Homo sapiens: one gene and its partners. The protein of the gene in region 3 interacts with the protein of the main gene of each other region in a pairwise test. Each region holds a gene or a part of one and is shown on either strand. Other genes may lie near its edges.

Region 1 (7,220 bases), on a different chromosome or scaffold from region 3:
ATATTAGCACTTATAATGATCTTTATTTATAAAAATCCTTAGGTCTTATTAGGGCCTTTTCCCAGTCCCTATGAGAACATGGGCAGTTGCTTAGGGTAACCAATTTTGGGAAAATTATTTTTTGGGGAATAGGTCATAGAAGAGGAGATATAGACAAGATAGGGCAAGTAAAGAAATGACACACTACCATTCCCATTTGTGAATTGCTGCTTCAGAGAAAACTGTTACTGAGGAAGGTGGGTCATATCTCCCAGGTATGTTGGGTTAGACAACACTGGAATAGTAGGACCAGAGGGGAAAGAGCTGGAAGACAAAGGAGTTGGAAGAAAGGTAAGAGGAATGCTTGTATGTTAAGTGTTTGTATTTTTGGCATGTTGTTTAATTTAGTTCACTGATGCTGACGTTTAGTCAAAGATAATCAAAGAAAGCAGTATGGAAGAGTATTTCAGACACCATGAAATAGTGGGAAAGGCCCTGGGCCTGGAATCAAGTTAACTGGGTTCTAATTTTTCAATCATGTGACTTAGACTAATGACCATCTTTTGGTTTCCAAGTTTTCTTTCTTGTAAAACGATGGTGCTAAATGATATTCAAAGCTATTCTAGTTCTAAAATTCAACAGTATAATTCTAAATATGAAAGTACATGTGGACTCTAGTTCTCCAGACTTCCTGAAGCCCTGCTACTCTTTTAGAAAAGGCTGCTGGTTTAGTTCTCTAACTTGTTTCCATAATATTGGAGCTGAAGTTGTGTGAACAGTGGTATCTCAAGCAGCATGCAAAAGCAGTTGGGAGGGTGGGAGTGCATGACAGTGAGTGGGTGAACGGATTAAAGAGAAAAGGGTTGGAAGAGAGGAGAGTGTGTGAAAGAGAAGAGCAGGCCTCCCTCCTTTGTCATTCTCCTGCTATAATCTCCAATAACAGCTATTCAGAGCCAAATACCAAAATGAAGGCATGAAAATGGCTTGGACTTTGAGTTAAATAGATCTGATTTTGAATCCAATCTCTGGAATCAAGTTTCTGTTTCCTTCTCTGTGTGATACTTTTGGTTGGCAGCTATTGTGAAGTTTAAATGAAATATTATTACCCAGCAGATAGAGGTGTTCAGTACAAATAGGCCTCCCCAAATTGGCTCAATCCTTTCCCCATCTTGCCCATAATATAAAAGACTAGCTAAAGAAACAAACATACAGGGCTGCTTAGCGATCTTTATCTAGAGCATGTAAATAACATGCAGTGGGGAAAGAAGGGTTCTAAGAAGAGGAAAAAGCTACAACCATGAAGCCCCTCCTTTGTGTAGCCTAACAATTCTCTGATTCCTGAAAGCCACAGAAATGTTTATTATCAAAACAGCATCCCTAACTGCCTTTCAACACTTTACCGACAGGAAGTCTCACTGCTCAGGTATAGGAAGTAGAACGAGGAAGCTCCCGAAGTTAGCAAAACTGGATCCTGAAGTGACACCCGCTTCCTGCTCTTCCACTCAGGAAAGCCGGGAACCTTTTCCCAAGCGGAGTCCTGGGGAAGCAGAAAACCGGGAAAGGCAAAGCCCCTTCTTCTCCTGTTTCTCTAGGTCGCTTGCTTAGAACCCTTTAGGGTTCTAACGCAGTTTCTGCTCGCAGGGAATGTGGGCCCTGGCGGTATTAGCACCCAGCCTCTGAGAACTTTCAGCACCGCGGACAGCGCCATTCCCTGCACTCAGTCGGAGGAGGAGAGCTACCTTGCCCCCAGCGCTCTCCTAGACCCTATACCTAGGGGGAGGCAGGGTGACATCCTGCGGCCCTTGGGCAATTCGGGCCAGTGACGTTCACCGACACTCAGGCGGGGATCCCTTCGCCAGAGCCAGTTCCTTTGAGTGTCTCCGCTCAAAATCTCAAGGAAACGAGCTTCACACAGGTGGGGGGATGAGGAGTGCCAGAACAGGAGCGAGCCCCGCTGCTCTAGCCTTCCTGCATCTCTTCTCGCCTTTGCTTTGCTCACTCTTCAATCGCAATATAAAATACTCATTTGGGGAGGGGGCAGGGTGACACAGGAGAGAGAAGGAGGGTGGGGGCTGCATCCCGCGTGGCCACGCAGCCCTAACCTGGCCCTCTTGGATTAGAGGGGAGCTGATGTGCTTTGGAATGGGAGAAGAGAGGAGACTGAGGGTTGAAGCAGTGCAGGAGAGCTCCCCTTGCTGGGGCTGCCGGCTCTGGGCAGGGAGCTTCCCTGGACACCGCTCCCGTCACGTCCTCTTCGCCGCTCCCGGGAGAGTCACCACTCTCCGGGGACAGACGCCCCTCGGGGCGCCACCATCCTGGTCGGGGTGCTGGGCTCGGCGGGAGTCCCTTTGAGGAGTTTGCTCCCAGGTAAAAGGGCAGACGTTGCTCCCGACCTCCCCGGAGTCTGCGGCCGGAAAAGCGTCTCCGTTTCATGGTCTCGGTCCGAGGCGGAGAACGGAGCTGCCCGTGCGGGGTGCGCGCCAAGGCGGGGGACAGGACGGGCCCGGCGTCTGCCGAGACCTAGGCTGCCCGCATTCCGCTCGCGGCTCCCCTTCTGCCTCCCGCTCTAGCGGCGCCGGAGCCGCGCTGGCCCCCGCCCCGCCCGGCAGCTCCCGCGAGTCAGAGCCCGGTGCCCCCAGACCGCGGGCAGTCGGGGCCTCATTCCGGGCCAGAGCAGGAAAGAGCCCGACCCACCTCCTCGGTTCTTCCAGGGAACCCCTTCTCGGAGGGCGCCCTGGGCCTCCGCGCCATATTCCTGGTCCCCCGCTCCCGGTGACTCCGGCTCCCTGGGTCATTCCGGGAGAGGCGGCCATCCCAGTTGCAGGGGTCCCGCTGGGGCGCGGGGGGCGCGGAGGGGGACAAACGGCAGCGAAGGGGGCCGTTCACTTACCGGGGTCGGGGCTGGAGGCGACGAGCTGGCTGCCAAGGCTGGTGGCTGGCAGTCCGCACTTACTGCGCGGAGCTGTCTCTCTAGCTGGGATGGGAAGTGGTGGTGGCGGCAAAGGAAGGCAGGAGGCAGCCGCTGCTGCTGAACAGCTCCTCAATTATTCAGATTGGGCCCCCACCCCCCGAACCCCTCCCCGTGCCTGCTCGTCCTCCCTCCAGCTCGCCTGTCTCCGCCTCCTTGGAGTCACATGGCCTGCCCAACCCCTTACATACTGGGCCCAAGCCTGGCACCAGACCACCTCCCACCTGGCCCCCCTGCCTTCCCCTCTGTCTGCCGCTCACAACTCCTCGCTGGCCTTCTGAGCCTCCAGTTGTGACCTCCAGTGTCTTATGTCAGGCTGCAGGGAGGTTGAGGGGGCCGTGGATGGGGGCAGTTCTTTGCCCTGGGAAAGCAGGGACCAGCAGGACTCTGCAATGTCTGTGCGTTGGGAAGGCATCTGCCGCAGCTCTGCCCCTGCTAGACTGGGCTGTCCAGACCTCCTTCCTGCCCTCTGGAAGCTTCCCTCATCCTCTGCGGAGCCTTCGTTGCTCTTAAACTTCCACATCCCTGAGCCCTACAGGAAAGAAAAAATGAGAGAGGTTGATTTCTCCTCTCCTCCTAAAGAAGACAAGACCCACCTCTGTCTTCAAAGCTTAAGTTTATCGTTGGGTTCACAACATCTTATGGGTGCAAAGATCATGGACTTGAGATTTGAAGAGCCATTAGGATTCCAATCTGTATGACCTTGGAGCATTTAACTTTCTAGCTTTTCTTCTCTCGTCTGTGAAATAACCACCTTGCAGTATTGTCATGAGATTGAGAAATCATCATGTTCTTAGAATTGCCTAGCCTAGAGTTGGACAGGTATTTGGAGCTCAATAAAGGAGAGTTCTTTTTCCCCCACCTTTGTTAAAATAAATTTCACAAGGCAAGAAGGATGTGATGTGTGCTAATACAGTGAAAGCATCTTTTAAACATGGAAGGAGGCATCTGTGAGGTCAGGCTAGACAAGTACCAGTCTAAACGGAGACAAGAGTGAGATAAGGTTTCTGTTTTGTATTAGCTCCTTTAAGATGAGTGTCCTAGAGCCAGGTTATGTCCCAAAAGGATTGGGACTAGATGGGACCAACCCAGGCATGCTTGGCCACATCACCGAATGAATTATTTAACAAGCATTGAGTAGACTGATTTGGATGAAAGTTATCTACATAAATTCTTGCACTTTGGCCCAAGCCCTCAAAACACATGGGAGGCAACAAAATGTAACTCTCCTATCCTTGGAAATGAATTCACTGGGCTTGTGTTTGGGGAGAATACTGGCTGACTGATACTCCTCTAGGGTGGAGCAGTTCAAATCTAGCTCTACTTTGTGGGTCTGCCCTGGGCTCTTCCCAGAAAGTTGCTTGATCATTGCCAGGACAGTCTTGGTTAGTCCACCTACCTCAAGCTTGTTACTGCCTTCGATGAGCATCTAAGCCTGACAATATCCCCATATTTTAAGCTTTGAGTAGTTCTGCAGGATATGTTAGACCTCCTGGGATCACCAAGAAGCTGTGAGACATTGTAGGAAAAGTGCAAAGTTAAAAAATCAGAAATTTGGAATCTCAGTGCAGGTTCTGCCAGCTACTTATCATATGATTTTTCACAAATCACTTAAATTGTCAGACTCTCATCTTCAGAATGGGAAAGGAATGTCTACCTGCCTTCTATATAAGATGGTTGTGATGTTTAGATGGGATAGCACATGAGAAGTCACTGTAAAAGGTAAAGAGTATGAATACTATGGGCTGAAGAAAACCCTGAGTCTATTCTAGTCCAAATGAATTATGAGGGTGATAAGATGGGAAGATGGGATTTGTCATGGAATATGCAGCTACTAAAATGTTGGTGTGTTGCTCTAAGTCTGCATGTATGCCTGTAGCTCAGGGGATGTGATTATTGGAGAACTGCATTCTTTGTTTCACCTTTTTCTGGATAAATTTCTGATTTAAATCTCCATATTTCCCTGGCCTTTTATTTCTGGAACACCAGCCACAATCACAATAGTTATGAATATTTACTATCTGAGAAAAGTTTGTGCCTATATTTCAAGACAGCAGGGTTTAGACTTTTCTGCCTTTGCTAGGTAAAATTGACTTGGGTTGGTAATTCAAAATGGCTTCGATTTCAAAGAAAAAAAATTTGGATTCTAGGAACAAACTCTAGACATTCATCAGCAGCTTGAATGATGATATGTGTTTCTAGTCCACTGCCAATAAACTCAATGAAATCCTCACACAAACCAGGAACTCCTGGAACCCTCCAACCTTAAGCAGATTCCAATCCTATCTCCTGGTGTACTTCCCCTTAATATTCTTTGGAAATTGCTAATCTGGACCTCTTTGTATTTAGGGAGACTAAAAGACCAGAAAGTGTCAACCATGCTTCTATATATACCACTGAAAAAATTGTCTGGGCTAGGTAAAATGCTGCTTCTGACTCCTGCCTACCTCTCCACTGACATCAAGAAACATGAGAAAGGGAAAAATAAGCATGAAATCATTTAATTTGGCCATGATGCCTTTATGAGCAGTTACCTGGACAAGCATAAATTTCAGAAAATTTTGAACAGTTTCACCAGAAATTGCTCAAGGACTCTGAATATATATTTTTTCAAAGCAGTTTTAAATGTCCAAGGCAACTTTACCCAGTGAAGAGCAGAAAAGGAAACTTAGAGAACCGATCTTGCATAGATTGCAGTAGAAAGTTATACCTTAGCAATGATTTCTTGTAAAGGTTTCCCTTGGGTCCTCCCTTACTTATAAGCTCTTGTCTTTTGCATGATGATTGTTGACTTTATCATAAGCCACTGCAAACACTTTCCAGCTGTAAGTAGAGCATTAATGAACAAAGAAATATAAATGCAGCAGACAAAAATTTAATTATTTAGAGCCATGCACAGCCGCAACAATTGGTGAAGTTCCAGAGTTCAACAATGATCTTACAAAGTGACTACTAACTAGATCTTTAAAGTACACATCCTTGTTTTCTTGTTCCTACAGTTGAAATGTGGAAGTGTTGATTCATGTATTCAACATATTCTAGACACTTAGGATACAGCCATGAACAATACAGAAATGGTTCTGCTCTCCTTGAGCTTACAGTCTAGAGCAGGGGGTCAGACCACAAACAAGTAAACAAAGCAGTGGAGATAAGTATCATGATGGAAATACAACAGAACAATATAATGAAGAGTAAAGGGGCACCACTTAAGTGATAGAGAACTAACATAAGCAAATGTGGGGCTCAGAGACAAAAGCGATTACTCTCCAGGGAAGCAGCAGAGCACTCTTATCTAGGGCCTTTTGCCAAAATAGGGTCATTAAAAGGGTAACGACTAAAATCCCTCATGACTGACCTGCTTGAATGGATGGTGGTTAAGCCATGAGGGAATTGGCCAGATGCCTTAAAAACAATTCTCCATTTTTGTCTCATGATTCATGAAAATGAGTACCTGATGCTTTCTTCTAGAAGGACCCCAAGCTCATCAGTGCCCCTGACTCTTGCCTCTGAGCAGATTCAAAACCTGAGAAACCAAAGACACTGTGATAGCCTGGCTAGAGGCTCGTCTGGAACTTTCCAAAGGGAGCAGTACCTTTGAGCAGCAGGAAGACAGAAAATAAGACACACAACCAGAACCTAGCATTACCATAGGCACACCATAAAGATCTATTAAACAAACAACCTGCTGCTAGGATCCTACCAATTGGACTGGAAATTTATAAGCAAATTATCTATGAGTAAATTATCCTCTAGGTATTTAAATTTCAAAAGGAAGAAGGAGGATGCTGACCTAAGCATGCTCATTTTATTCCTAAATTTACAATAGAATATAGCACTTTCCCCACTCCTACCCCATGCAGAGTAAATAAAGTTGCCTAATCAGTGAAACTATGGAGTCAAGACAGAGGTCAGGACTGTCAAACCAATGGAGTTCCTTGACATGGAAGGAATCGTTAAAGCAAACAGTTCTTCCCATTTATTATGTGTTTCCTTCCTTTAATTACATTCACTTTCCTAAATTAATTTATTTTAAAGAGGTTTTCATCACTACCTTAAATAGAAAACTGATATCAGTTGCCATAAATACAAGGCAACTATTTAAACAAACACAATGAGAATAAAACAATGCTATTATAGTCAAGATAAATACCTTTGCCTTCCCAGGAACCGAAGGCTTGCTTTCTCCTTGTTAAAAAGGAAATTAGCAGCTGTTAGTGAGGTGTTAAAGACATTGACATCAAACTGTCTTTCTCCATAAAGTAACCAAAAAGAT
Region 2 (7,200 bases), on a different chromosome or scaffold from region 3:
ATTATCTTTTTTTCTTTTTTTCCAAGAGGGCTTTTTTACTGGGAAAAGGTTGAACCCACACAAATAGTCAATACGCTTTGCATTTAGTTCTGTTTCTTATCATGGCCTGTTTATATTTGTCCTGCTCAGACAGACTTATCTGACTTGGGACATTTGACTGGGCCAGGTGACCACAGGTGACACACAGATGGAGAACAGCAGAGTGGCTTAGGGGCATGGGTGTCAGAGTCAACTGACACCAGCTTCTGGTCCCACTTCAATCGCCCACCAGCTATGGGATCTCAGGTAGGAGGTGTCACCTCTCTGGGCCACTCCTTCATCTGAAACTGGGGATAATGCTGGTACCTCTCACAGGGCTATTGAGAGATAGAAGGAGATGATGTGTCAGGCCAAGTCCTTTAGACAGGGCAGCTGTTATTTTCATCCCTGCAAGCCAGATCCTCTCCCAGCATCCAGGCATCCTGGTGTTTGGCCCTTTTCCTCCAGAGTCTGGTGTTTTCTCCTTCCATCCACCAGTCCCACCCGGCCCAAGCACACCACCAGAACAAAACAGGAGAAGAAGGAAACACTGTTCTCTTTTGCTTGCTTCCACATTTATTTGGGTAATTTTTCTTCTGTCATTGTTCATAAATGTCTCTGATGATCCACATTTATTGAGCAATGGGAACTTTCTGGAAAAGGCGCTGTGGGAGCAGAATGCGGCCTCATCCCTGGAGCCCTGTCTCCCCCGCTCCTGACTCGCTGGCTGGGAGCAGCTCTGAGGATGGGGTTCTCCCCTCTCCTGCCCCTGCCACTCACTGGGCAGCCCCCTCAGACCCTGGGCACTGCTCTTAGCTCCTCTGCCACCCTCAAGAAAACACAGGAGCTGCCTGCTGCTATGAGGACCTCATTGTTCTCCAGAGCAGCCTCTCACCCTGACCCCTTCCCAGAGCCCAATCCATAGTGTGTGGGTGGATGGGGATGGAGGTGAGATCGAGAGCTGGGCTTTAGCGCGCATACCCTTAGGGAGGCTAGATGTCTACTCTGCCCCCAAGCCCCATCGGGCCCCAGCTCGCCACTCCAAGTCCCTCCTGGCGTGAGCGAGGAAGCGCCCTGAGGATGACATGCCAGCTACACCCTCCTCCCCCGGAGGACCTAGCTTTCAGCACAGGCCACCTGGCCACCAGTTCCACAGCCCTGTGAGTGTTCACTGGTCTTTCTTTCAGCTGGTCGGTCCGCTCTCTGCTCCTCCCCTCCCTTCTGCTCCTTCAGCTCCATGCTGCTCTCCTGCTGCCACTGGCCCCAGAGCCCACACAACCTCCTCAGCAGCTCATGAAAGTCGGCTTGGAACCCGGAGGAGGAGAAGTAGTAGACAAAGGGGTCGACACAGGAGTTCAGGGTGCTGAGAAGCGTCACGTAGATCCTCCACGCCGGGCTTTCACCGCAGATATAGCCCACGACATGGGACACGTTGTAGGGCCCAAAGCAGACAAGGAAGTTGAGCAGCGTGGCCGCCAACAGCCCCGCCACCCTCCTCTGCCGGCGGTGGCTGCCCCCTCTGCCGAGGATCCACACCAGGCGGCTGTAGCAGTAGCTGGTGATGATCAGCGGGACCACAAAGAGGACCACAGCCATCTCCAGCCGCACGGGCAGGAGGATGGCTAGCTGGTCCTTCCGGAACTCCAGGTAGCAGGTCCCATTGGTGCCCTGGCTGTGGGAGATGTCCCCTGAGAATTCTATGACGTAGACCACGCTGCAGTGAGCAGAGGCCAACAGCCAGCAGGCCACACTCACCAGACCTGCCTGCCCCAGCCTCGGCCGGGTCTTGTACCACAGTGGGTGGGCCACACTCAGGAAGCGTTCAATGCTCACAGCTGCCAGGAAGAGGGCGGTGAGATAGATGGTGGTGAAGAAGATGAATCCAGAGAGTGGGCAGAGGATGAAGGGCAGGGGCCAGTGCATGCCATTGGCTGCCTCCACCATGCGGAAAGGCAGGAACAGCAGCAGGAGCAGGTCCGAGGCGGTCAGGTTGAGCAGGAGCACGTCCACGGCCACCGGGCGGCGCTGCAGCTTGCCCACGAAGACCACCAGGGCCAGCAGGTTGAGGGGGAGCCCCACCAGGAAAGTGAGAAGGTACACCGAGAAGACGAACCAGTGATTGCCGGAGAAGTAGGACTGGTCGGGGCCTGTATCCATGGTGGTGGCCACTGGTGAGAGAGAGTAACATGGAGTTGGTAGTGGGGGCCCTAACGGCCTCTGGCCAGCAGCATCTCCCCTAAAAGGGCACGAGGTCACTACGCCCACCCCTCTTGTCTCTGGGTGCCTTCCAGGCGGGGTCAGCCTGCCTGTCTTCCTGAGCATGCCCTGTCCCCTGTCCCTTCCCCAGCAGAGAAGCACCAAGGTGCTCCTCCACCCAGCCCCTCGGGCCCAGGCTCACCTGCTTCTTTGAGACCCCAAATGCTCTGCCGCACAGCACCTTGCTGTCTCTCCAGACCTAGTGCAGTTGGCTATTTATCCGGCAGAACTGATAAAGACCTGGCCGTGCCCATGACGTCACTCACTGTTGAGCAGTGGCACATAGATGCCTTGAGCTCCGTTGCCAGGGCTGGTCAGCATGCTAAAAGGGGAACAAATTCCACAACTGCGTGCCTCCCTCCTCATGCAGTCTCAGCTGGGATGCTCTAAGCAGGCCCCAGCCGACGTCTTCCTCTCCCCTTCTTCACTTGAATTTTGTCTGCTTCTCTAGAATGGCATTTATCCAATTTGCCTTGTAAGGGCAGGAAGTGTGATGCAATGACAGAGAGCGAGCTCCGTGAGGTCTGTTTCTTCCTGACTTTGTGATTTGGGGGAAATGACTTAAATTCTCCATGTTTCTGCTTTCTCCCCTGCAGAACAGAGCTCATCATAATACCCATCTCATAGATCAACGCATTAACACATGCAAATTAAAACAATATGTAGGTCGATTAAAAGATTACTAATACATGTTGAGTGGTTTGACGGAAGCCTGGCGTGTGGTCGTGAGCAGGCAGCGGATGCCAGCTGCTATTTTCCCTGTCACTGGTGCAGGATTATCTCTGGGGTGACAATGTAATAATAATAACAATAATAATGGTGGTGGCGATGATGACAGCAGCTGCCTTTTCATGGGCACATAATCCATAGCAGACACTGCTTCTAGGGCAACGCTTTTATGTCATAAAATCCTTGTCCTTCACCGTAGGGAAGTGACTTGCTCCAGGTGATACAGCTTGTGAAATGTCACCACTAGGGTTCAAACCCAAGTGCTGTCCAGTTTCACAGGTGATCTATTAGTTCATTCAAACAATCACAGGGCACAATGAGATATGATTTCACATCCACTAGAATGGCCACAAGCAAAAAGTCAGACAATGCCTATGGTCGGCGAGAATGTAGAGAGATAGGGGCCTCATTCACTGCTGGTGAGAATAATGGGAGGTGGTGTCCCTGCTTTGGAAAGCAGGTGGCAGTTGCTTAAAAAGTTAAACATAAATTCACCATGCGATCCAACAATTCCACCGTAGGTATTTACTTAAGAGAAGTGGAAACTCAGGTCTACTTAAAGACTCAGTCCTAAATGTTCACAGCAGTGTTGGTCATAGTCACCAACAGTGGAAATGTTACCTGGCAGCCCATCAGCTGGTGAGTGAATAAAAAAGTGGCACATCCATATACTGGAATTCTATTTGGCAAAGAAAAGGAATGAGCTACCCATACACACTACAGCCTTATGTTGAGTGAAACAAGCCAGACGTAAAAGACCATGTACATATATTGTCAGATTTCATTTATTTATATGATATGTCCAGAATAGGCAAAGTTATAGAGTCAGAAAGTAGACTCGTGGTTGTCTGGGGGATGGAGGTAGAAATGAAGATTAAGTTGTTTTTTTTTTTTTTTTTTTTTTTTTGAGACAGGGTCTTGTTGTCGCCCAGGCTGGAGTGCAATGGTGCAATCTTGGCTCACTGCAAACTCTGCCTCCCGGGTTCAAGAAATTCTCATGCCTCAGCTTCCTAAGTAGCTAGGATTACAGGTGCCCGCCACCACGCCTGGCTAATTTTTGTATGTTTAGTAGAGATGAGGTTTCGCCATGTTGGCCAGGCTGGTCTCGAACTACTGACCTCAGGTGATCCGTCCACCCCAGCCTCCCAAAATGCTGAGATTATAGGCGTGAGCCACCCCGCCTGGCCCAAGATTAAGTTTAAATGAACATGAAGTAAAATCCTTTACTAGGGTCATGAAAATGTTCTAAAACTAGCTGATGGTAATGGACTCACACCTCAGTAAATTTACTAAAAATCATTGAATTGTACACTTAACATTGGTGAATTTGATGATATGTACATAATATCTCAATTAAGCTGTTAAAAGTGCAGCAGTAGGCTGGGTACGGTGGCTCAGGTCCGTAATTTTAGCACTTTGGCAGGCTGAGGTGGGAGGATTGCTTGAGCACAGGTTGTTTGAGACTAGCCTGGGCAACATGAGGAGACCCTATGTCCACAGGGGAAAAAAAAAAAAAAAAGAGAGAAAGAAAAAAGAAATTAGCTGGGTTTAGTGGCATGTGCCTCTGGTCCCAGCTACTTGGGAAGCTGAAATGGAAGAATCGCTTGAGCCCAGGAATTCAAGGCTGCAGTGAGCCATGACTGTGTCACTGCACTCCATCCTGAGCAACAGAGTGAGACTGTGTCTAAAAAAAAAAAAAAAAAAAAAAAACAACACGCAGTTGTGAACAAAAAGTTTTTGCTGTCATGCTGTTTACATTACATTTGGTGGTGAGGGCTTGGGGGATGGAGTAGGGGAAGGATCATGAAGACGTGGATACTGAAGAGGCAAAGAGCCACTGGAGGGAACATTGGGGCAGGGGAGTCACGGGTGCACAGACTTGGCCTGCTGGGGGAGCTGATAGGAGGTTTGGGTCTCACAGGAGTGAGAGGCGCCTGGGGTGGATCACACTGAGTCTCCTGGGCCCCAGGGAGGCACTGGATTTGCCCTAAGTGGGGGGAGGCAGGAGGAACTGGGAGAAGCAGCCCAGTACCCAGCAGGGGCTATGGAGCAGGAGTCAAAGAGAGTGGGCCCTGGCACCCTGTGATGCGGGAGGAGGCACTGGGGCTCCCTGGGGTGGAGTTTGGGTTTTTACTGAAATTCCCTGGTGTTGTCACTGCACAAGTGCCGGGCTTGTTTCTGGCTTCCAAAAGAAGTTACTTAATTTCTCTGGCCTGTTTCCATATTGATAAAACAGACATAGAACTTTCTTTGGAAGGCTAGTAGAGGCATTCATTCATTCATTGAGCGAACATTTACTGAGCACCTACTGCGTGCCACTCTGTCTTCTGGGCGCTGGGGATATATCATCAATTACAAGAAAAATCCTTGCATGCGTAGACATTTCAGCCTGAACAGAGCTCATTTGTAGAAATTGGTGCGTGCACCCCAGCTGGTGGCTGCCATTTGTTGTGCTCCAATACATCATCATGTGCATGGCATTGCTGTAATTTAGAGCAGGTGCCCAGGTGTCTGTCTCCTTCACAGCCACAGCCACTCCCTTCTGACCTCCCTCTCATGGATGTGGGATGCTATCCTTTGCGAAATGGACCACAAATACAGGGTTAACCCCCACACCCCCAGGTTTCCCAAATGTCCCCTGGCTCTTGGGGGTTCTGCTTGGAAGGATCACATCCTGCTTTTACCCCTTCCTTGCTGTAGGGCCTTAGGCAAGTTTCTTCATCCCATTCCAGGATCGTAGCTACCTGGTGCAGCACCTTTGTGCAAATTAGGTGCTCCCTTTCCAGAGGAGCCCATCCCGCACCAAGTGCTGCCTAAGGAGTGGCTGGTGTATTTCTTCAAATTAGAACACAATACTCCTTCCCTTGATGCAAGCAAGGCAGGCATGTGGCTTGTTGAGCAAAGCACAGGCTAGAATTTAGTCAGTGTTTGCTCCTCTGCCCAGTACCTTCGTGTAGTGAACACCCGCTCATCCGTACGGCAGTGGCAAGGCTAAACCACAGCGTTGTGTGAAGCTGAAGTGAGACAACACTCACTGTAGACACTCAGCGTGACACCCATCACGTATTACAGACTATATAGTTGACCTTTGAATAGCACAGGTTTGAACTGTGCAGGTCCACTTACTTGTGGATTTTTTTCAATAAATACATTGGAAACATTTTCAGAGATTTGCAACAATTTGAAAAAACTTACAGAGGAACTACAAGCCTAGAAATATATTTTTAAAATTAAGCAAAAGTTAAGTATGCCACGAATACAAAAAATATATGTAGGTACTAGTCTATTTACTGCCACTAGTCTATTTACTGCCATACATACTAGTCTATGTATGCCAAAATGGATACAAAGCTTTTTTTTTTTTTTTTTTTGAGACAGGATCTGGCTCTATTACCCAGGCTGGAGTGCAATGACATGATCTCGGCTCACTGCAACCTCTGCGTCCCAGGCTGAAACCATCCTTCCACCTCAGCCTCCCAAGTACCTGGGACTACAGGCACACGCCACCATGCCCAGCTAAATTTTTTGTATTTTTGGTAAAGACAGGGTTTCTCCATGTTGCCCAGGCTGGGCAAATCTCTTATAGAAAGTTAAAATTGGCAGGGTACCGTGGTTCACGCCTGTAATCCCAGCACTTTGGGAGGCCGAAGCGGGTGGGTCAACTGAGGTCAGGGGTTCGAGACAGGCCTGGCCAACATGGTGAAACCCCATCTCTACTTACAATACAAAAAATTAGCCAGGTGTGGTGGTAGGTGCCTGTAATCCCAGCCACTTGGGAGGCTGAGGCAGGAGAATTGCTTGAACCTGGGAGGCGGAGGTTGCAGTGAGCCAAGATCACACCATTGCACTCCAGCCTGGGAGACAGAGCAAGACTCTGTCTAAAAACAAAACAAAACAAAAAAGTTAAAATTTATCAAAAATATATGCACGCAAACACAAACTCTATTTGATGCCATTTGAAGTCAAGAGAAATGCAAGCAAACATAAAGATGTGCAGTATTAAAGTCATAAGTGCATATTTACTGTAGACATACTGTACTCCTATAATAATTTCGTAGCCACCTCCTGTGCTTTCTCCGTGAGCTCAACTGTTGAGTATCTGCTTCCAACACCACGTGAAGCTAATCACCTCCTGGTGAGCAGTTCTCGCCAGTACACTGTGTACAGAAGTAAAAAGTGATCTTTCATAGTCATTGC
Region 3 (7,785 bases):
GGACATTTCCTTGAGACCGCCTGTCACTGACTCACTTCGTTCCCATGGTGCCCGCAGCTCTGCGGACCTCGGAGGGCTGCCCTGAACACCTACAGTTAACGAGGGGGATCCAGTGCTGACCAAAAGAAAAACCCCTGCCCTCACCTGGGGAGAGAGCCACAGGCTCTATCTAGTGTCAGCTGTGAAGGCCAGGGGACGAGGGACTGCGGCGGCTGAGAGTCGAGGGAAGGCCCCTGAGGAGGGGGACCGGTGAGGAGACCGCTGAGCGCTAGGAGGGTGAACCCCGGCAGGACTGGGCGGCCTTGTGACCCCGAGGCTGAGTAGGGAGTGGGGTAGGAGGTGAAGACCGGATCCAGTCCCGCCCCAGGGGGAGGGCTCGTTCCTTCGCAGCCACTCTCACGCCGCCACTAGGAAGCCCGCCCCGGGCTGCCCGGACTCGGGCTGGGCCCCTCCAGGCTCCGTAGCCCGCGGTGCGCCACCCCCGCGGACCCAGAGAACGCAGCCCGGGTCTCGGTCACTAGAACTTTAATGATAGAGACTAGGATGCGGAAGCGAGCGCCCCTCCCCGGGGCAGCTGGAGGCTCCGGCTCTTCTTTCCCGGCTCCGTCGGCCCGGGGGCCTTGGTCTCAGGCCCACGGCAGCAGCGTCCGGAGCCGTCCGAGGAGCGCGGCGCGCAGCGCGGCCGGGAGGAAGTGGGCGAGCAGGCCGAGCGCAGCCAGCGCCACCAGCAGCCAGAGGGCGCGCGCGCTCGCGTACAGCGGTGCCAGCCTGCGGGCGGCGGTCAGCGGGGAGGTGGCGCGAGGAGGCCCGCTTCTTCCCCGCCGCAACCCTGGCCCCACGGGGACTTCCTCTGGCCGCCGCCAGGGCTCGCCCACCGAATCCCCAAAGGCGCTGGGCTCCGGCCCGTCGCCCGCCCCCAGCTTCGGTCCCGCTCCCCAGGAGCCCCGCCCGCCCGCGATCTTTCCCCGGCCCCGCCCCGCTCCCCGCCCGGCCCTCACCTGAGCTGCGCGGAGCGCGCGTAGCCCTGGAAGTAGCGGAGGCGCGCGAACAGGTAGACCAGGCCGCACAGGGCCGCCGCCCCTGCGAGAGGTACGCACGGGCCTGGTGAGCGCCCTGCGCGGGTCCCGGGGGTCCAGCGCGTGCGCCCCTGCCCCACACCCCGACCTTCATGAAAGAAGATGCCGGCGACCCAGAGCGTGGCGAGGAACAGCGGGAAGTACTCGCTGCAGTTCACCCTGCGGTGGGCGGGTGGGATGAGCGCGCCGGCCGGGATGGTCCTGCGACCCGGACCCGCCTGGGGCTCGCTCCCCGCCCCGCGCCCTCCCGCCGCGCCTCACTGGGCTCGGTAGACGCGCTCGAACTCGGGTGGGCCGGTGGTGAGCGGCGGCGACACGCGGAAGGCCCTGCGCGCCGAGATCACCTGCAGGGAGAAGTAGGCTGGGGGAGGAGGGGGAGCGGGAGTCAGGTCTGGACACCCGAAGCCCCAGAGATGGGAGTGGGAGGGATCCTGCAATCTGGCCCTTCACTTGGCCGTGTCCTCTCCTCCCTAAGGCGGAACCCCGCCCCCTCCCCGCCCGAGGAGACCTCTCGTCTCACCCATCCCTGGCCTGCCCTGTGTCCCTGACATTCAGCGAGGAGGGCAGGGCTGAAGCCTGGGGCGCAGAGAGGCCCTGTCCCAACCTGTGAGTGTATGGGGGAGGGTGAGTGATTCAGGCACAGGGACACCTGCTCCGCGAGAGAGACCACTTGAGTCCTTGTTTCTGAATCATTTCACTCTCAAAACACAGGCAAATGCAGCTTTCAGGTCCCTGGCCAGGAAGTGCCTCGGGAGTCTGAGGGCAGAGCTGGCTGCATCCTCCCAGGTGCAAGGAAGCACACTCCCTGTAGCTAACAGTCCCTGGTCACCCACCTACCAGCGCCCACCAGCAGGGCCCTCTGACCCTGCCTCAGGCCGGGATCACTAAAGCCTGCGTCCCTGTGCCTCCAAACCTCAGTTTCTCTGTTCCTGCATTCCGGTCCCAGGCCTAAATCTGACAGACACCTTCTCTCCTGCTCCCAGGAGGTTGCAGCTGGGACTCTCCTAGCCTAACCCCAGGACCCCAGGGCTGGGGTAGTTGCAGAGGGTGGGCTGGCCCTAAAGTTTCTCTGTGGGCAGGAGCCCTTCTCTTGGTCAGGTGAGGCCAGGCCAGACCACACACAGACCAGTGCTGGCTGTGCGCTCCCTCCCCAGACCTCCCGTCGGACCATCTCCCCCTGAGTCCTGCAGCCCTGGCACCTTTGGTTCTGGGCCCTCTGCAGATGGGTGTCACAGGGTGGCCATCCAGCTCAGTGCAGGAGCAGCTGGAGGTCAGGCTGGCCTGTCTGTTCAGCCCCTTCAGAGCCCCCTCCCCAGGCTGTGCCTTATCCTAGCCCACACACTGTGGAGTAGTGGTGTCTCTTAGGTGGCAAGGATATCTGGCCAAGGAATGTGTCCTTTAGGGCCAGTCTGAGAAAGGCATTAAGCAGGCTCTTTTTAGGGGGCTGGAGGAAGGAGTCCCACCTCTACCCTGCTCCACGTGGTCCCAGTATGGAGGTGCCTTTGAAGCAGAGCCAGGGAATGGGGGCCGCTTGCTGGGACGCCCAGAGAGGGGACAGCTGGAAAGAGCAGAGATCAGCTTCCCCAAGCCCATGGCTATCCTACCATTTGTCCTGGCACCCTTGCCACCCCCAAGTCCTACAGCTCTCACAGCCAGGTGCCCCCCAGTTCCCTGAAAGTCCCCACCCTCTTCCAGCTTGGGCCTGGGCTGGAGTCCCCACCTCTGCCCTCCACCTGGGCCTAGGGGGCAGAGGGCAAGCTGTAGGGATCTAAGGCCCACCCTCTTCCTAGATAGGAACCAGCCCACCTTGCAGCAGGACTCCCAGGAGGGTGACAGCAGCCAGTAGAGCTACCTCGTCCTTCATGGTACCGTCGGTGTGGTGGCACGGGCTGTGTGTGAAGGCGAGCTGGGGAACGCTTAGCCCCGTCTGCTGCTCAGAGGACGGCCCAGGAGAGGAAGAGCAGCCTCGGTGCTCTCCCCGCCCCATCTCAGTGGAGGGGGTGCACGGGGGTGTGACCATACCACACAGAGCCAGGGAGCCAGGCCAAGCCAGCAGGGAGGAAACCAAAGTCTGGGCAGGGGAGAGCAGCTAGCTGGAGACCGCCTCACCACTTCCTGCTTGTTCGTGCCCCTTCCTTGCCTAGTCCCGCGTGGCAGAGCCCAAGCTGTCCATCTGGGTCAGCTCCAGCTGTGGGTGTGCCCCCTGCTGCACCACCCCACTTTCTCCAGGGCCTTGCAGACCCCCACATCATGCTGGAGCCAGCCCCAGGCTCCCGGCTAACTCCTCCACCCACCTTATCTGTTCCCTGTCCCCATCCAGGCTGTTCCTGGCAACCCCTGCCAAACCCTCCTCTGCGGAAGCCCTTCCCAGTGCCTTTGGCTTCAGAATGGAGTCCCAGCGCCCCCCCAGCCACACTGGGCCCCACAAGCTCTTTCTCCTTCAGGAAACCTCATGCCTGCCAGCCTTAGTCGTTGTAGGGGTTCCATGCACAAGGGCCACCCTGCCAGGAGGAAACCTGTCCAAGGCCCCCTGGGTGGCGGGAGGGTCAGCCCTTGTGGGCCATCCCTCTCCCAGGCCTCTCTTGGGCCTCCCACAACAGTCACCTGCTGTGTCTTTCTGCCCCGCAGCCCTCTTGCCTCAAGGTAACAACCCTCCACCACCTTCCTAGACGGCTGCCCTCCCCACACTCAGGCCCTGTGGTCTGGACAGTGCTGACTCCTGCCCCTTCCAGGCCTGTGAGATGGACACTGAGCCAAGGCTGACTCAAGATGGTGAGATGTAGTTCTGGAAACTTCCTTAGGACTTTGGGACAGGAAACTCAGAGTGGGGAGGGGGACTACGGCGGGCCACCCTGAGGACAGAGCCCACGCAGGGCCAGGTGGAGAGGAAAGGTGGCACCCGAGGACTCCTGCCTGGAGTTCTGGGTGTCTCCCTCGCCCCGCCTGGAGCGCCCCCGGCCGCCCCCCTCGCCCTGCCTGGAGTGCCCCTGGCCGCCAGCCTTCCCAGTTGGGCCTAACGGTCACTTCCTCTTTTGGCTTGAGTGGGTTTGCGGTGGCTTTTGGTCAGAAGTGGCAAAGTCCAGACTGACCCAGAAGCACGGGCAGGAGCTGGGGGAGGCCACAGGCCGTGCTGCAGGGGTCGGGCCGCATGGTTCTGCCCTCGCACCTGGTCCTTCCTTGCTGCCCCAAGCTCAGCTCCAGCCTGAGGCTCGGAGCCTGTTGGGCTCTCTCAGAATCCCTTCTTCCTCCTCTGGGTATCGCCCCTGCCCCCGGAAACCAGATATGCCCCAGCTGGGGGCTCTGTGAGCTCCTCCAGGGCAGGGGCCAGGGCTCAGGCCCGGCCCCTGCTTTAGACCAAGCTGTGACAGTCATCTTGGGGCTCAGTGATGGAGGACTGCCTCCTAGATCCCGGACACAGATGTAGTGCCAGGGAGCGATGGTGGCCGCGTCCTCAGACTCTGCCCACTCAGCCTCCTTCCTCCCTGAAACCTGCCCCACAGGGCCTGCCTGAAGGGTGGGATGCAGCCCACCACGCAGGGGTTGACGCTGGTGCCAGTGGGCTGTGCCCAGGGTGTCTGTGTGCACCACGCATACATACCTGCATGCCCCTTGGTCAGTTGTCACACACCCATGTCTCTGTGCTTGTGGGTGTCCAAGTGTCTTCGTGAGTCCAGGCCCTCCTGTCAGCCAAGCTCTCATTTCCTCCAAGGCCTGAATGTCCTCCCGTCGGAGTTCATCCCCTCAGTCCACAGCAGGAAGCCAAAGCCTAACATCAGCAGCTTCTGAGGAAGTCCCTTGGCAGATGTGCAGGGCAGGGACCTGGGTCTTGGCCCCGGGAGCCCTCCCCGGGTCTCTTGGTTCCCACCTCCCTCCCTCTGAGCCTGCCCAGGCTGTCAGGGCCCTGCCTGGGCTCAAGCCAGCTCAAGCTGACAGGAGGGCCAGCCAAGCCCCCACCCCTGCTCGGGCCACCCAGCTTCCATCTTCCTGTCTAGCTCTGGAGGCACCAGCATCAGGAGGGAAGCGAAAGCTCCTCCCTGAGCCTCCACAGAGCCCTAAGGAGTCTCTGATGCCCACTCACCAGGACCTCTGGGCGGCAGAAAGGCCGGCAGAACCATTGCACAGAGAAGAAATCAGAACTTCTGTGGAGTGGATCATAGGCAGTGCACAACTCAGACCCTGAGCTTGAACAAGAAAGTTTATTTAGAAATTATTTTATATTTGAGACAGGATCGTGCTCTGTTGCCCAGGCTGGAGTGCAGTGGCTCAACATGCCTCACTGCATCCTCAAACTCCCGGGCTCAAGCAATCCTCCCACCTCAAGCCTCTCAAGTAGCTGGGACCACAGGCTCTAATTTTTTTTTTTTTTTTCCAGAGATGGAGTCTTGCTATGTTGCAGGCTGGTCTCAAACTCCTGGGCTGAAGTGATCCTCTGCCTCAGCCTCCCAAAGTGCTGGGATTACAGGCATGAGCCACCATGCTTGGCTGAAATTATTTTAGACTTACAAAAAAGTTGCAAAAATCTACAGTCTCGGCCAGGCGCGGTGGCTCATGCCTGTAATCCCAACACTTTAGGAGGCTAAGGTGGGCGGATTACCTGAAGTTAGGAGTTTGAGGTCAGCCTGGCCAACATGGTGAAACCCCATCTCTACTAAAAATACAAAAATTAGTCAGGCGTGGTAGCAGGCACCTATAATCCCAGCCACTTGGGAGGCTGAGAGAGGAGAATTGCTTGAACCCAGGAGGCAGAGGATGCAGTGAGCCAAGATCACACCTGAGCGACGGAGCGAGACTGTGTCTCAAAAAAAAAAAAAAAAAAAAAAAAAAAAAAAAAAAAAAAAAAAAAACTTGTATAACCAAAATTCAGTTATAAACCAAGAGATTTCCATTGATACAAGTTAGTAATCAAGTATTTTACGGATCTTATTCAAGTTTCACCAACTGTCCTACTGGAATAGTACAAAGACCTCAAAAACTTTATGCTAAATTGTGCCAGGCTGGGCATGGTGGCTAACGCCTGTAATCCCAGCACTTTGGGAGGCCGAGGTTGTGGACCACCTGAGGTCGGGAGTTCAAGACCAGCCTGACCAACATGGAGAAACCCTGTCTCTACTAAAAATACAAAATTAGCCGGGCATGGTGGTGCATGCCTGTAATCCCAGCTACTCCGGAGGCTGAGGCAGGAGAATTGCTTGAACCCAGGAGACAGAGGTTGCAGTGAGCCAAGATCGCGCCATTGCACTCCAGCCTGGGCAACAAGAGCGAAACTCCGTCTCCAACAAAAAAAAAAAAGAAAAGAAAAGAAAAAAAAAAAAAGGCACAGAGAGGGCCAGGCGCGGTGGCTCACGCCTGTACTCCCAGCACGAGGTGGGCAGGTCACGAGGTCAGGAGATCGAGACCATCCTGGCTAACACGGTGAAACGCCGTCTATACTAAAAAATACAAAAAATTAGCCGGGGGTGGCGGTGGACGCCTGTAGTCCCAGCTACTCTGGAGGCTGAGGCAGGAGAATGACGTGAACCAGGGAGGCGGAGCTTGCAGTCAGCCGAGATCGCGCCACTGCACTCCAGCCTGGGCAACAGAGCTAGACTCCGTCTCAAAAATAAAAAAATAGAAAAATTAAACCATAGACTTAGAGAAAACATTTGTGAATCATATATATGATTAAAAAAATACTTTGAATTCAAAATATATAAAAACTCTCAAAACTGGATAGTAAGAAGACAGTTTCCTGAGTAAATGGGTGCAGATCCCTGTAGGGCAGAGATCACCTGCTGTACAGCTGAGAACTGATTCAGTCTGGAAGTGGCCTGGGATCGTGAGAACCTGAGTCTTTACTGGGGCAGCTGGCCTGGCTTCTCTCTGCTTCTCTGTTCTTCTTCTTTTCTTTCTTTCTTTCTTTCTTTTTTTTTTTTTTTGAGACAGAGTCTAGCTCTGTCGCCCAGGCTGGAGTGCAGTGGCGCCATCTCGGCTCACTGCAAGCTCCGCCTCCCAGGTTCACGCCATTCTCCTGCCTCAGCCTCCCGAGTAGCTGGGACTACAGGCGCCCGCCACCACGCCTGGCTAATTTTTTGGTATTTTTAGTAGAGACGGGGTTTCACTGTGTTAGCCAGGGTGGTCTCGATCTTCTGACCTTGTGATCCACCCGCCTTGGCCTCCCAAAGTGCTGGGATTACAGGCGTGAGCCACTGCACCCAGCTTTTCTTTTCTTTTTGAGATAGGGTCTTACTCTGTTGCCCAGGCTGGAGTGCAATGGCGTGATCTCAGCTCACTGCAACCTCCGCCTCCTGGGTTCAAGCAATTCTCCTGCCTCAGCCTCCTGTGTAGCTGGAATTACAGGCGTGCACCACCATGCCCAGTGTATTAGTCCGTTTTCACGCTGCTGATAAAGATATACCCAAGACGGGGCAATTTAACAAAAGAAAGAGGTTTATTGGACTTTGGGGAGGCCTCACAATCATGGCAGAAGGCAAGGAGGAGCAAGTCACATCTTACGTGGATGGCAGCAGGCAAAGAGAGAGGAGCTTGTGCAGGGACACTCCCTTTTTTTTAAATTTTTTTATTTTTATTTTTGGTTTTGTTTTTCGAGATGGAGTTTCGCTCTTGTTGCCCAGGCTGGAGTGCAGTGGTGTGATCTCAGCTCACTGCAACCTCCGCCTCCCAGGTTCAAGCGATTCTCCTGCCTCAGCCTCCCGAGTAACTGGGATTACAG

Evidence for each region.
Region 1: the proteins of LTC4S (region 3) and SLC7A14 interact in binary tests that used the Homo sapiens proteins (3 or more experiments, as listed by UniProt).
Region 2: the proteins of LTC4S (region 3) and FFAR3 interact in binary tests that used the Homo sapiens proteins (3 or more experiments, as listed by UniProt).

The regions. Positions count from the first base shown.
Region 1 is NC_000003.12:170,583,042-170,590,261, forward strand, and holds the start of SLC7A14 (solute carrier family 7 member 14), read right to left. Parts: upstream 3,035-7,220; 5' UTR 2,870-3,034; intron 1-2,869. UniProt on the Homo sapiens protein: Imports 4-aminobutanoate (GABA) into lysosomes. May act as a GABA sensor that regulates mTORC2-dependent INS signaling and gluconeogenesis. The transport mechanism and substrate selectivity remain to be elucidated.
Region 2 is NC_000019.10:35,353,866-35,361,065, reverse strand, and holds FFAR3 (free fatty acid receptor 3), read right to left. Parts: upstream 2,541-7,200; 5' UTR 2,417-2,540; intron 2,187-2,416; coding exon of another isoform or gene 2,176-2,186; coding exon 1,135-2,175; 3' UTR 577-1,134; downstream 1-576. UniProt on the Homo sapiens protein: G protein-coupled receptor that is activated by a major product of dietary fiber digestion, the short chain fatty acids (SCFAs), and that plays a role in the regulation of whole-body energy homeostasis and in intestinal immunity.
Region 3 is NC_000005.10:179,789,236-179,797,020, reverse strand, and holds LTC4S (leukotriene C4 synthase), read right to left. Parts: upstream 3,036-7,785; 5' UTR 2,941-3,035; coding exon 2,883-2,940; intron 1,438-2,882; coding exon 1,338-1,437; intron 1,236-1,337; coding exon 1,165-1,235; intron 1,081-1,164; coding exon 999-1,080; intron 769-998; coding exon 627-768; 3' UTR 374-626; downstream 1-373.